Homo sapiens: one gene and its partner. The protein of the gene in region 1 interacts with the protein of each later gene in a pairwise test. Each region holds a gene or a part of one and is shown in the gene's direction. Other genes may lie near its edges.

What was found. Proteins that work in one complex are often made in the same cells at the same time.
Region 2: the proteins of CKMT1B (region 1) and RXRG interact in binary tests that used the Homo sapiens proteins (3 or more experiments, as listed by UniProt).

The regions. Positions count from the first base shown.
Region 1 is NC_000015.10:43,589,315-43,597,048, forward strand, and holds the start of CKMT1B (creatine kinase U-type, mitochondrial precursor), read left to right. Parts: upstream 1-4,712; 5' UTR 4,713-4,904; coding exon 4,905-5,053; intron 5,054-5,380; exon of another isoform or gene 5,381-5,564; coding exon of another isoform or gene 5,565-5,657; coding exon 5,658-5,856; intron 5,857-6,059; coding exon 6,060-6,155; intron 6,156-6,541; coding exon 6,542-6,763; exon of another isoform or gene 6,764-6,764; intron 6,765-6,892; coding exon 6,893-6,978; intron 6,979-7,093; coding exon 7,094-7,217; intron 7,218-7,734. UniProt on the Homo sapiens protein: Reversibly catalyzes the transfer of phosphate between ATP and various phosphogens (e.g. creatine phosphate).
Region 2 is NC_000001.11:165,442,116-165,449,644, reverse strand, and holds the start of RXRG (retinoic acid receptor RXR-gamma), read left to right. Parts: upstream 1-4,518; 5' UTR 4,519-4,751; coding exon 4,752-4,800; intron 4,801-7,529. UniProt on the Homo sapiens protein: Receptor for retinoic acid. Retinoic acid receptors bind as heterodimers to their target response elements in response to their ligands, all-trans or 9-cis retinoic acid, and regulate gene expression in various biological processes.

The DNA.
Region 1 (7,734 bases):
CCACCAACACTATTTTCTGCCCACCTTGAACAGTGGACGCCTCACTTCCTTCTTAATGCAATTTTTAATTCTTCAGACACACTCCTCATTCCGACTCTGATCAACTGTGCTCCTCTCCCTGTTCTCAGTATCAGCTGCTTCGTTTCGCCTTCTTTCCCCAACTTGCTATGACTCTTGCCCCAATACTGACTGCAGCCTCCCCATCCCACCCCGCATCATTGGTCAACTAATTCCATTAATCCAACTAATCCTCGCACTCACTGATTGCCCAGTATTAAACTCCTTCACCCTCTCGCACGAGTCATCATACTTGGTAACATCTTTATATTGACCCCTCAGTGACCCCCCACAATGACGACCTGCCATCCATTCTTTCCTCACATCACCCCTCCCTCCAGGCTGTCTTCTCTCAGCCGCAACCCATTCCTCAAGCTACCCCCTTCCTCCTGGACTCCAGCCCCACCCCTCCTGGCGCAGATCCCTTCCACCTTGATCCTCTCCCCTGTACGACTCCGCTCCTCCATCCTCCCACAGGACCCCCTCTTCCTCACGCAGACCCCCACATACCTATCTCCTCTCCCGCCGACCCCCTCCTCGGTACTCTCCTCGCACAGCTCCGGGTCACGAATACCGCCCTCGCATCCCGACTCCACTAGCCTTTGCCCGCCCCCGCCTTCGCCGCCTCACTCTCCCTACGCTGACACTAAGGCCCCTCCGCTGGGCCTCTTCCCAAAGCGGAGCCCACCCGGAACGAACCCCAGCCCTGGGAACCCACCAAGCCCACTCTACCGCGCCCACCCGGTCCGATACCGCCCCCAGCCCCAGCCACTCCCCCACCGCCCCCGGCCTTCACTCACCCGCCTCCCTCCGCTCGCGCAGCCGAACCTGCAGGCAGCGACACCTGACAGCGGCCCAATCAAAGCGCGACTTCTTTGCGGTTCCACCAATCAGCGAAGGGCGCGCACCGGTAACAGAGTCAGGCTGCGTTGGCCGGCGCTTCTGCGCGGAGGAGCGTGACCCCTAGTGGCTCTGGGAGGGAATGCAACTTGATGCTCCCTTCCTTTGATTTCTTAGTGTGTCGCCAAAGTCCAGAAGCGTGGTCTAGACAGAGACGTTTCATGAGACGACGGGGTGGGTGGGAAGCCTCATGCTGAGAAAGAGGAAGAGGCAGAGTTTGTGCCATTGCTGTTCCTTCAGAGCAAAAACCAGGTCTTCCCTTTGTCTTATGAGACAAAACAGGGTCTCATATATGTACAGATCCAATAAATAAAGGTTGAAAATTTTAACAGATGTAAAGAGGACTGATAGGGAGACTGGAGACAAAAAAGAGACAAGGAGAGAAGCAGATAAGAAAGTTAAGGGAAGGAACAGAGAGACATTTACAGAGGAGGCAAGAAAGTGGATGGACCTGGAACTCTAGACAAATTGATTCCTATCTCCACAGCCTGCTTTTTCTCTATGCTCCAGACAAAGCTGGATTTGAATCCTGGCCTTACCTCTAATAGCTGTGCAGCCTTGAGCGACTCACTTAATTTCTCTGAGCCTTTATTTTTCTCATCCATAAAAATAGGATTAAAAACCTAGGGCTGGGCTCGGTGGCTCACGCCTGTAATCCCAGCACTTTCGGAGGCCAAGTTAGGCGGATCACTAGGTCAGGAGGTCGAGATCATCCTGGCCAACATGGTGAAACCCCGTCTCTACTGAATATACAGAAATTAGCCGAGTGTGGTGGTGCGCACCTGTAATCCCAGCTACTCGGGAGGCTGAGGCAGGAGAATCGTTTGAACCCGGGAGGTGGAGACTGCAGTGAGCCGAAATGGCGCCACTGCACCCCAGCCTGGTGAGAAAGCCAGACTCCTTCTCAAAAAAAAAAAAAGAACCCAAAAAAACCCCCCAAAAACCTAATTAAGGCCAATTGTAGTGGCTCGCGCCTACAATCCCAGTACGTTGGGTGGCCGAGGCGGGCAGATCGCTGGAGTGCAAGGAGTTCAAGACCAGCCTGGTCAACATGATGAAACTCTGTCTCTACAAGAAATGCAAAAGCTAGCCAGGTGTGGTGGCGTATGCCTGTGCTCCCAGCTACTTAGGAGGCTGAGGCGGGAGGATCACTTGAGCCTGGGAGATGGAGTTTGCAGTGAGCCAAGATCACCTCACTACATTCCAACCTGGGTGACAGAGCGAGGCCCTGTCTCAAAAAACAACAACAACAAAACACCTCACTTAAAGGTACTGATAATATGAAAGCATTTTGTATTGTATATGTTATTGCTCTTATTATCCTCGCATCTTCACTTGGGTTTCCCTGGTCAAGACAGTTGTTCCCTTTTCCTTCTCTGCAATATTAGGGGTCTTGCCACTTTTCCAGTCGTGCCTCATTGTACTGACCCCACAAGGCCTCCTGAATGGACATAGAAATGATTCTAATGGCTTGAATAGATTATTCTAAGAGGAATAGATGCCTCCCTAGTTCATGCTCAGGCTCATACCCCCTCCACCACTCTAGCCCTTCAAACTAGCTATTACAGCATCTTCCAGGTATTTAACTCCCCTTACTATCCCCATGAAAATGTAGACTCTGTCCCCAGTAATCATTGGAACAATCCAATTCAACTCAATGAAATAATACATATAAAAGTTCCTTGTAATTGTAAAGTGCTTTAAAAATATTAAATACTATTGACAACAATAATTCTTATTAAATAAATGAAATACCATATAACAATACCATATATTGATTACTTCCATATGCTGCAAAATAATTTTTTAAATGAGCATTAATATATTATGTGCTTGTAAAAGGCACACAAGGGATAAGAAAAGTGCATAAGTACATGTGTTTTCTCAGTGGAATTATTGTTCACATTTGGGAAGCTACTCTCTAAACTTGGGTAATTTCTCTACTCCTCTGGCTGTCTTATTTCTCCTTCGGTAATTATCTCTTCCCACTTCCTATTCCTTAGTAACACCCTCTCAATCAAATAGCAACCCTACTGCTCTGGAAGATTATCTCCCTATTTATCTGGATAAATACACGCTATTCTAAGAAATTATATTTATTTACTCATGGCTACTTTTCAACCTAGGTAAAGAGGCCCCACAACACAGGTAACATTTTCCACACTACAGCTGCATAACTCTGTTCTCTAATAATTGATGTCTTACCAGAAGAAGAAGGGATGGACCCAAGAGAGAAGTGGACACTTCTAAGAATACCCACAAATGACAAAGGTAGAATAAAAGGACACAAGGAAGGCCTAAGGAGAATGAAGGGAATGAGAGTAATATGGGGGAATTTTCTATGTAAAGGGAATTCTCTTTCCCAAATACTCTCTGTTAAGATTTCCAAGTATCTGTCTTGTGGGTACACCAGGATAGCAGAGGGAAGGGACTAATGCCACGGTGCTACTCCACCTTAACTGACCCTCCACGCTGAAGCCCCTCATCTCTATTTCAACTCTAGCATTCATTCTCCTTGCTACCAGGACAAAGGTCAAATCATACCTGGAGCTGGGAAACAAAGCCCTCTCAAATCTGAATATGTGTTTCACGAGGAGAGAGAGAGCAGCAGAGGGGACCACGAGGAAGGCAGAGATTCCCTGACGACCTCATGCCTTTGTACACCACTCGCCTTTACTCTCTGGATTAAACAGCATTAGGGAGACAAGAGAGGAAACACATGTGGTGTCTGGAGACCTGTGCCTGCCTGTTCCAGTCCCACACCCAGTCATCTCACCACACCCTTCACCTCACTTTACCTTCTCCTCCAGCACAGGAACTAGGAACTACGGAGAGAGAAGCCAAGGGAGAGGAGGAGGAGGAAACTAACGATTCCCTGCCCACCCCCACACCCAGCACCACCAACAGGTGGGCAAGCTTGCCGAGAAAACGCAGAGGGCATCCTGTGAGCAGCAAACACATCTGAGCCTGGAAAAGACGCAGAGAAGTAAAAGATCAAAGGTGAGGTAGGGGACGTGGAGGAAAGTGGGAGAGACAAAAGGAAAACAAAAAGTGGGGGATCATGAGAAGCAGAGGCAGGAAATAACAGGGCTTCAGACTTGGGTGCAGAATGGAGGTGGAGGACACAGCACAGATGGCATAAGAATTAATATTTCCTTGGTTCCTCCCAGGGAGTCCTTTCTCAACTTTGTAAGGCGTGCACAGAGGTGGCAAGGAAGCACCTTGCTCCTCTTCCTGGTTCTAAGGAAAAGGTGACCTTGAGCCAGTGGGTGTCTTTCCCAGTGCCTGCCTCTAACCCTGTGCTTTCTCCATATCCTCCTCTGGTATCTGTGTTTATTCCGCGGTTTCCCCGCGGCTGCCCCCGGGAGACCGAAGAGGTGGCTGGGGCAGGCCGAAAGCAGAGGAAAGGTTGGGCAGTGTCACCCTTGCACACCCACAGGGTAGACGGATCGAGTTTCAGCTTAAACCGAGGGGTGTGGGGGAAGGGTGTTGGGTTCAGCTAGTCCACGTGGGTGCTGTCCTCCACTTGGTGCTGAAATCTGGGCGGCCACATCCCCGGGGCGGGAGGGGGCTACATCCCCGGCTTTAGACGCGCGAGTCTCAGGTCCCGCTAATTACCTGGCGGGTGCTGCCCACCCCTGCCCTCGCGCACCTAGCGCGGTGGCAGGCGGGAAGGCGGGGCCTGGGGGAGCCCCACCCCTGGAGACTGCGGCTGGGGCCTCCCTCTCCTCCGCCCGCCCGCCTGCCACTAGCTCATTGCGCCTCTCCTGCAGTCTGATTGGCACCGGCTCCCATTCCGGCTCCAGCCTCCAATCCGACCCCCATTTCGGCTGCAGCCTCGGACCTAGCTCCGGCCCTCGGTCTATCCGGTTGCATCCTCCCTCCCTGTTCCGGATCTTATCTTGCGCCAGCGCCTACTCCAGGATCCCGTAGCCAGACCTCAAGCCATGGCTGGTCCCTTCTCCCGTCTGCTGTCCGCCCGCCCGGGACTCAGGCTCCTGGCTTTGGCCGGAGCGGGGTCTCTAGCCGCTGGGTTTCTGCTCCGACCGGAACCTGTACGAGCTGCCAGTGAACGACGGAGGCTGTATCCCCCGAGGTAACAGTGCCTGAGGCGCGGGAGGAGGCGGGGGCAGGAGGTGATGGGAACGAAGGTGCGGGTAGAAGTGAGAATCCGGGCAACAGAGAAGGGCTATAATCACGAAGGCCCTGGAGCTGGAGGGCTGTGCAGTCTGCAGACCTCAGTGGGGTGGGGGTGGGGGCCAAAACCATAAAGCAAGAACATTCCTGGGGACCTGCCAAGACCAGCTCTGGCCCTACGAGTTCTAGCTGCACTGGCTGCCCAAATCCCTAATTGTAAAGCCAGGAACTATCCTTTTCGCTCCCCTCCATCTCCTTCCCTCATTTCCTCAATTCCTCTCCTTAGGCTTTTCCCCTCCTCCATCCGTAGTGTTGTGTCATGGGAGGAAAGAACTGAGCAGATCTGAAGAAACTGAGCTGGCCAGCCAGAGGCAACTAGAACTATTAGGAAAGCATAGACTCTGAAAGTCCCTAAAGAGATTACCAAGGTTTACCCTCTTTCTAATTCCCCCTCCTCCCGCGGAGCAAAGCCAGACATGGCCAACTGGACAGCTCCCAGGTAACTGCACTAGGTCTAGGCGTCTGTGCCCTCCCTCCATGGTTACTGGGTACCCCCTCCCCAGCGCTGAGTACCCAGACCTCCGAAAGCACAACAACTGCATGGCCAGTCACCTGACCCCAGCAGTCTATGCACGGCTCTGCGACAAGACCACACCCACTGGTTGGACGCTAGATCAGTGTATCCAGACTGGCGTGGACAACCCTGGCCACCCCTTCATCAAGACTGTGGGCATGGTGGCTGGAGATGAGGAGACCTATGAGGTAGGGGGTCCCCAGAGTCTCCCTGATGATCCAATTCATCTTCCCAGTAATCCCAGCTCCTTTCCCCTAAAGACCTCTCACTTTCCCCCAAGACTCTGAGCCCCCCATACTTAAGTTTTCTGAACCAGTGAAATCAATGCACAATTGAAGTCTGGGGAGGGATTCCCTCTCCTTAACCATCTCTCCCTCTTAACTCCCCTTAGGTATTTGCTGACCTGTTTGACCCTGTGATCCAAGAGCGACACAATGGATATGACCCCCGGACAATGAAGCACACCACGGATCTAGATGCCAGTAAAGTGAGTTCAAATATCCCACTTCTGATTTGCATTGCCTGTGTACAACACTCTGTATCTCCAACCCCTTCACCTTATTTCCTGACTCATGGTCATTATACAGCTGAGCTTTTAATCTTAATGTAAGGAAAGAATCATATCTTAAGGGGCAGCATATATGGAGATGGAAGGATAGATAAGAATGACCATGACCCAAGGTGGGTGGTTTGGGGAAAGGTCTGCAATGCCCCCTTCAATTCCAGTGCTTTCCCAAAGGGCCTCTTCTTCCAATGCATGCAGGAAGAATGCACAAAGAGTCCTCTAATGCCTAAGGAAGGTCTCTCCTTTCCCAGGGGCCCTCAGTTCCCACCGTGTTTCTGTGACTTACATTCATTTCCCTTATCTCCCAGATCCGTTCTGGCTACTTTGATGAGAGGTATGTATTGTCCTCTAGAGTCAGAACTGGCCGAAGCATCCGAGGACTCAGTCTGCCTCCAGCTTGCACTCGAGCAGAGCGACGAGAGGTGGAACGTGTTGTGGTGGATGCACTGAGTGGCCTGAAGGGTGACCTGGCTGGACGTTACTATAGGCTCAGTGAGATGACAGAGGCTGAACAGCAGCAGCTTATTGATGTGAGGGCCTTAAGAGGGTGCTGGTTGGTGGGAGCAGATGGGGAAGGCTGGGCCAGATGAGACATGGGCTCTGAAAGGCCCAGGGGCCACCATGAAGATTCTTAACCCAAGTCCCGTTACTCTTCCCAGGACCACTTTCTGTTTGATAAGCCTGTGTCCCCGTTGCTGACTGCAGCAGGAATGGCTCGAGACTGGCCAGATGCTCGTGGAATTTGGTATGAAGCTGCTCATTACCTCTTTTGTCTTCATGCCCTCATAAATGCTTTTTTTCCCTCTATCTCTCCCAATTCTTGCCTTGCCTCTTGATCACTGTCCCTCTCCGGCCCTCAGGCACAACAATGAGAAGAGCTTCCTGATCTGGGTGAATGAGGAGGATCATACACGGGTGATCTCCATGGAGAAGGGTGGTAACATGAAGAGAGTGTTTGAAAGATTCTGCCGAGGCCTCAAAGAGGTTAGAGAAGACTATGTAGGGGAGCTAGGTGGGAGGACATAAGGAAAACCAAAGAGTAGCATAAATAGATTATGTAATTTACCAACCAACCCAGGACATGTCTTATAGTAAAAAGGACTATCTAGGACTCACTCCAGGACTAAAGGTGTAAACCAGCTGGGACCATACTGGGAAAACCAGGACATGTGGTCACACTAAGATTAGGAAAAGAAAGAGTGTCAGGAATCTTAGGAAGTGAACAAGGCTGTTGACAGAGAGTGCAAAGAAGGAATAAATGAGATGGCACGTCAGTGCCTGGGATGTGTGCAGTGGGATGGTGAGGTGTGCAGATAAGGAAAACATTCGAGCTTAGATTGATGTTGGCGGGGAGAGGTTGCTGTGTTCATGACTCTAATATAACCACCCAGTTCTGAGACAAGGTAGGCCTTGACTCTGGATTCTATCATTCTTGTTAAAGTATCGGGTCTAGGCTTTAAGTTGAGAGTTCGGAGAGAGACTGGGGAAGGTGGAGGATAGA
Region 2 (7,529 bases), on another chromosome or scaffold:
ACGTAAAGCTATATCCTTTGATTACCAGGGTGAATATTAGATATTATTGGCCGAATTTGTGTCAAACAGCCAAACATACTAGTCAAAATCCATGCTCTTTCCACTTATTCAAAGGCACTAATGGCTTTAGTAAAAGTAGAACATATTATTTAAGAGGACTAGTTAACTAGCCTTGACAAGAAGTAGGCCAAGAATTCTTGTGAATGAATTAGCTAATTCCTACTGTAGACTTTGAGCATTTGGTCTTTCACTTGACATCCTAATGAGAATTCAGTAACAGCTGGAGACACAGTTGTGACTGAAGTCAGTGGAGCTGTTTGGGAAGGGCTTATGTTAGAAATACCAGCCACTTAGGATAACGTTGTTATACCAATAATGGTCTTAGGGAAGACACAATGGTGCCAAGAAAAAAAAAAGTGGGTTAAAAAGAAAAAACCACATTCATATTTGTTGATCTTTAGGCAGAGCTTATGGTTTGTTATGGGGTATTAAGCCATATGGAAGGTATCATAAGAAAAGCATACTGGGGTACCGTTTGGTATATTGTTTTTGATGTATTTGACTATGTCAAGCATTTTTGATACAGAAATATTTGTTGAGCACCTACTGTGTGTTTTAGCACTTAGGTGAGAAAACAAAGAGACATAATACATTATCACTATATTTGAAGAGTTAACAATCATGTTATGAAGATAAGACATATTCAAAGGAAAGATAAATAACCATTCCTTGCCATTTCACTGGGGATGCCACAAGGCCATACATACTAAGTGTCACCTGAACACACTGGACAATAAGTTTTATCAGACCTAGGTTAGGGAGACATCTTTTTGGATAAGTGTTTTCATGGTGGGAAATGAGCTGGAACTTGAATGATAGGTAAGAATTTTAGTGATGAGAAAAAGTAAATGGGCATGAACAATGAACTACGTGTTAGTCCTTTTAGTGTTGTTATAAAGAAATACCTGAGGCTGGGTAATTTATAGAGAGAAAAGGTTTAATTGGCTGACAGTTCTGCAAGCTGTTAAAAAAAAGCATGGTGTCAGTGTCTGTTCAGCTCCTGGTGAAGCCCATGAGGCTTTCAATCATGGTGGAAGGCAAAGGGAGAGCTGGTGTGTCACATGGTGAGAGAGGGGTCAAGAGAGTGGAGGGGGAGGTCCCAAACTCTTAAACAACCAGATCCCCTGAGAGCTAACTGAGCAAGAACTCACGCATCACCAAAAGGATGGCACTAAGACATTCATGAGGGATCCACCCCATGATCCAATACCTCCCACTAGGCTCCACCTCCACCATTAGGGATCACATTTCAACATGAGATTTGGAGAGGAAAAACATCCAAACTATATCAAACCGGAAGTTGGAATGAACATACCGTACCCCTACAGTGGGCAAAACAGCCAGATCAGAAGGAACTCTCAGAGAAAGGGAGGAAAGAAAATCAGGAAAATATTAATTCTTTGCATTTGTTTTACAAAGCCATTGTATAGAACTTCGCAGTGTAAAAATGAGCACGTGCCCAACTCTCAACACATCTGATCCACAAAATCAAAACTAAATCCAGAAACCTTAGTGAGGCTGGCAGCATGGATGTTTTTCCCAGAGAGTGTGTATCCCAAGCCTTGTGATTACTGCCCCAAAGCACTTTCCTCTACATAGAGCTCACATGATAGGCCGAGACACCCCACAAATGGTGAGCCTTTTCCATGCCAGGTTAGGATTTGGTTTTTCTTCTGTGAGGAAAAGAAATAGACAATGTACTGAACTTAGAAAAAGGTGAAGAAAGAGTCTATCTGTTGGTGGCTTAACCAACAGATCATCTTGACAATGACCTTGGACAAGTCTGTAGACTGTGATTTTTAAAGAATGGTTTTTGAGTACTTGAGTACTTGGAAAAACCCTTGAAACATGGGTTCACACACACACAAAAAAACAGTTTAAGTAACTCATTTCCTTCTCTGACATGCGTACAATAGAAAACTGTAGATTGTAAGACACTTGCTTCAGATACCACTATGGAGAAAATGGACAATTATGGAATGGGTGATGCATTAGTCTGCGTTCAGTTTTAAAGCTGAAGATGATATTGGAACCCATGTAGCTCTGCTCCATCATTTTACAAATGAGAAAAAGGAGAGGAGCCATAAAGTGACTTGCTTAAGGTTACATCCTCTTCCTCTTTGACCTCCTCCTCCTCCCCATCATTTGCCTCAAATTAGATTACATGTATCGAGCATTTAGTATTTATCTGGCGTATTTCAAGTGCTTAACATGTATTGACTCATTTAATCCTCATGGTAACCCTATAAGGTAACTGAGGCTCAGGGAGATTTACTCATTTGCCAGTATCATGAGGCTGTAAGCAGCGGAACAGGGATTTGTACCCAGCAATGTTGGCTTGTGAGTTGGTGAGTTGGTGCTTTTACTATACATATAGCCTTTCAAGGCCATATAACTAGTGAGTAGCAGAGCAAAGTGTCTAAGGCACTAATGAATGGACTTTTTAGTGATATAAGATGTTGTCTTTGCTATGTCTATGTCAACATTTTTATCAATGAGTCGAATAAGATATGAAAAAGCAGTTCATCAGATTTTCAGAAGTCATGAAATAAGGGTATGAATAAGAAATATTTTGGACAACAGAAGCAGGATCCTAAAAGATTTGGGATGATGAATGAAGCCAAAAAGTTTTAACTTCAGAGGAATATAGGAAGCATTTCATGTAGGTCCCAAAACCAATTGCCCAAGGATGGGATGAAGAATATGCATAAGAGAACACAACTTAGGGGAGGTAGGGGTGGGGAGATTTTTATCGAGTTAGTTCTACATGAATTAACATGCAGAGCTGCCCACCTAATGCAAGTGAGCAAATGGTCCTCCTGTATTCTATATTACTTATGTCCACTGGACTCTCATCCCAGCAACAGTCAAGGCAGCTCTGGGCTCTCCAAAGCTCTTTACAGTGAAGGCCTGGATATTTCTTCCTCCTTTGTGACATGCTTTTGCTTTGATTCCCCATTTTGGCCTCCTCCTTTGTCATCATGACTTTGTTCCTGACTCTGGTCTTTTATTCTACGTTTTTGTTTTGGCTTCTCCTAGCATTTGAATCTTGATTTTTTACTCTGGGACCCTGATTTGACTTACCTCTCTGGCTCTCTATGTCTTATGCTGCATCAGGAGAAAATCTCTTATCTTTTTTCCAGCCCAACAGAGCTCAGCCCATGAAACGGACCTTCAATGGGTATGTTGACAGCACCCCATCACCGTGCCAACACATATACCATGAGGAAAAGGTTTGGACCATATCTGGAGTATTGCATCCAAGTCTGGCCAACCCCCTTCCTCACTGTGAGGGTATCTATGTAAACTGAAGTACATTATTAGAAAAAGGATAGGTTGGGAATAGACATGAACCCTTGGTGATACATAGAATTACTGAAAGAGCCAGAGATGCCTAGGGAAAGGGGGATTATGGGCACAGCAGATCAATCTCAGGATTTGCAGAGGATCCCACTGTGAAAGACTTTTTTGTCTTTCAGGCTTCTCTTGTGTGGCCCCTGGGAGCAGTCTAGCACCTGTGGGCAGAAGCTGTAGGGAAAAGGAGCAGATTTTATCTCTATAAGAAACTTTCTTGTGGTGAAAACTATCTAGAAATGGAATGAGAAAGTGGTGAGCTCCCCATTATTGGAGGTGTTCAAGTATAGGCTGAGCGGTGACTTGTCACGAAAACTGTATGACAGACCCAAACATCAACGGGGTGCTTAGATTCTTTGATCTCGGGTCAGTTCCACACAAGACAGGCTCTGTGTTAGTGAGGACCCAGTGGTGTTTTTGAACAGGCGGCAGGATAACAATGGTATATAAAATAAATGCAGAGAAAGACCTCCACATCAAGCCAACCCCTCCTCCCTACCTGTAAGTTTTCCACCTGAGTGAGCTCTGGCTCCAGCTGCACTTGTCAAACTCCCATTGTTAGAGCACAGATAAATGCTTCCGGCCACCCAAGCAGGAGAGGCCCACCTCAACTTAAGGGCTACTCTATTTTAGTTTTCCGTAGCTGGAGATTGAGTATCACGCTTTTCTAATCTTGTGCTTCTGAAAGGGCCCTGTTCTCTCTTGAACCCCACCCCCTCCTCCTTTCACAGATCAAATACCAAGTACATTGGACAGATAGAAGTTCGAATGAGAAAATGCATTTTAATAAAATCCCATTGATTTTTGTGGATGTAAGTCAAGGAACAGGCACCTAAAGAGTCTTCCATCCCCTGCCGTCTCCCGCCTCTCTCCTGACCTACACCGGGCGGTCATACATCGATTGGCTTCCTAGATAATAGATCGTGCCACCCGGTAGGGACCTCTGGGGACGCGCCGGGAGCTGGAAGAGTCGCACGCAGCAGCCCAACCCTGAGTTAATCAAACTAGCAACAGGATCTCAAGCAGCAGCGACGGCGGTGGCAAGAGTAGCGGTGACGGCGGCGGCGGCGGCGGCGGCAGCATTATGCGTGATTACTGACAGGCACCAGCTGCTGCCGCCACAGCCGTCTCAAACGCACTATGTGGACTCTCCGATCTAGAGGCAGATTCCTGACTAATCCCAGAGGGCTGGCCCAGCCTGTGCTCCCCGGGCTGCTAGGAAGCGATGACCACTCTTGTTAGCCCAAGTTGAAGAAAGCCGGGCTGTGCCTGGGAGCCGAGAGAGGCGGTAATATTTAGAAGCTGCACAGGAGAGGAACATGAACTGACGAGTAAACATGTATGGAAATTATTCTCACTTCATGAAGTTTCCCGCAGGCTATGGAGGTAAGTATCTCCCTTGGGCTTCACTGCGTGGACCTGTATGAGAGACTGAGAAGAAATTGGGAAATACGAATGACTGGATTAGTATTGAATTAAAAGGAGAACATATATGTTTATATGCATATATAGTGTGTATATAGCGTTTCAGCGTGTGTGTGCACGCGTGCATGAGAGAGGAGAGGAGGAAAGAATGGTCTGTAGGTGAGGATACGTTTGCATATCAGAATGAGGATACGGGGATATTCTAAGGAGAGAGTAAACCAACATGCTTGAGAATGTGTCTGAGACAAAGATAGAATAAGAGCATTGTTATAACCCAGTGTGTTTGTGCGGGTGTGAAAAGTGGAAGAGTTAACGGGGAATTACTATGATGTTCCTATTAGCCAACTTGTAATGAGAAAAAATGTGATTAAAAAGGTTTTGCCTATCTTGAGGGTTCCTGGGATACTTTGTAACAAGGGCATGATTGTTTTACTCAAAAGCAGATTTCCCTTTAATTGGATTTTTAAAAAGAAAACATAGTGCTTTAATTTGCTACTGTGTTTTCCTTCCCCTGTTTTCTTTCCTTTGATTTGCTAATAGCCTCTTCTCTCCTCCCCTGCTGCTGCCCCCAATTCTACTGCAAGAGTTGCTGCAATCACTTCCACTCTGGGGGTAGAGATCTGGGGATGGGGGGTTGGGGCTCTTAGAGAATTGGCAAACTGAAGATTCAAGTCACCGTGCCAGGCAGGGCAGCCCAGTCACACTTCACAGAAGCTTCCGGAGACTAGGTCCTCAGGCTGCCTTAACGCCCAAGCACATCCGTCCCAAGGATCCCTTGATTTAGTGACAGAAACAGTACAGCCGCCCAGCTCTGAGTAAATGGAAGCAACAGCTGACCAACTGGCCTGTCGCTTGTCAGTTGGAGGCATGCAGCTTATGTTGCTGGGAGCCAAAGAAAGATTCTGGCAGGCAAGACAGCAGAAATTCTTATAAGGTTTTGAAAATTGAAAAGTCCCTGCTCTCCAGACTTCCTCCGTGGACCAATTCATCTGAAGGCTTGGGACTAAAGCTTGCCTAACTTGGCTGGGCAGAACCCCCTGGGAGGCATGGTGACACACTGCAAGGTAGAAGTGATCTCTGTCACCAGGAGGTGTTAGACCTGGGAGTTTGCACATTCATTCAGGGTAGTTTTTATGAGGCAGGCATGGTGTTGGGCACTGGGAATACAAATATGAATGAGACACAGTCTCTGCCCTTTGGGACTGGGGCAGGCTTGTTACACAGGCACATTATAATACTGCATGATGTGTGTAATAGCAAACGTAGGTTGTACTTGGACTTGGGGTGAGGGCCATGGAAATGTTCCCGAGGTGATGTTCAAGTTCTTTGGGCCAGTCTGATGACAGAGTGAGAGCGGTGGCCAATGCTGTGACCTGGGCATTTGATCTCTAGTCTATGGTTGGGCTCCAGATGTGAAAAGCCTCCTCAATTCCCACCTCAGTCCCATTCAGAGCTGAGAATTGCTTTTTCCTTTACATCTTAGTTCATTTGTAAGAGGTGCATGCTCATTTTCAGCCAGATTCGTGGGCCCCCCAAGGTCTGTGAGACTGTGGCTTCATTAATGCCAAAGAGACCCTTGGAGACAGTTGGGGTGAATAAAAGGGTTGAAGCTAGAAGGATTTAGGGAGAGAACTAAAGTAAGAGCCAGAGAAAGAAGATCTAGTTAAAATTCCATGGGGGCTGGAATCTTGGAATGTTAGCATCCTAAGGACCTGAAACAGCATCTTAGGCTCTCATCTTATAGATGTGTAAACTGAGGCTCAAAAGAAGGCAGGGACTAGTCCAAATTTATATGGGGCTGAGCTGCAGAACACTTCCAGAAAAGCCCTTACTCAAATTTATAATATTGTTGCTTTAATATAGTGAAAAGAGCACCAGGAGGAAGAGGAGGCAGGAAGAGGTAGTGTGCTGAGTTTGGTTCCCAATTTTTCACCTAGTAGCTGTGTGACCTTAGGCAAGCTAGTGAACCTCTCTGAGCCTTAGCACCTTTCTCTCTAAAATGGGATTTATAATCTCATCCTTAGAGTATTGTGAAAATTAAATGAGTTAGCATGTGAAAAACAGCTGCTATAGTGTTGTCCATATATTTGCTACCTAATACAATATTTTCTTCCCCTCTATTTTACTCAGAGACTAACATGCAAAATAGTTAAAAATCAGACATTATTGTAAAATAATAAATAAGGAATCTGGGAAAATAAAATTAAATCCACAAAGACCCTCATATTTTGCTGGCATAGATTTTCATAATTGTGGGGGCTCTGATATTTAGCGTAATTAGATTTCAGATAGAAGTAAACACAATGGTTCAGCTATGGAAGGAAATAGTTCAGTATAGTATAGGGAACTTGAGGGGAAAGGGTCATGTAGGTTGTCTACATGTCTCCTGTAAAGCTACTTTTCTTTGTCATTCTTGAGGGAGGAGAAGAATTATTTTGTTTAGTTCTGTTGAGGTTTTCCATTTTGTTGGCATGTGCCAGTTAAGAGGAGGCCTAAATGCTGAGCCAAAGGACTCTGCCCCCGTCTGCAGGGAGGTCTGTTTGAGAACTTTCTGTGATGAGGGAGAGGGACAGAGGACTCACAAGCAGGCACAGGGGAAAGCAGGATTAGAGTGGACGTCACCTTTGGCCTCTAACCTCCCCTGCCACAGTGCAGCAAGTTGCACGGCACTTATTAAAATACTTGGTGTA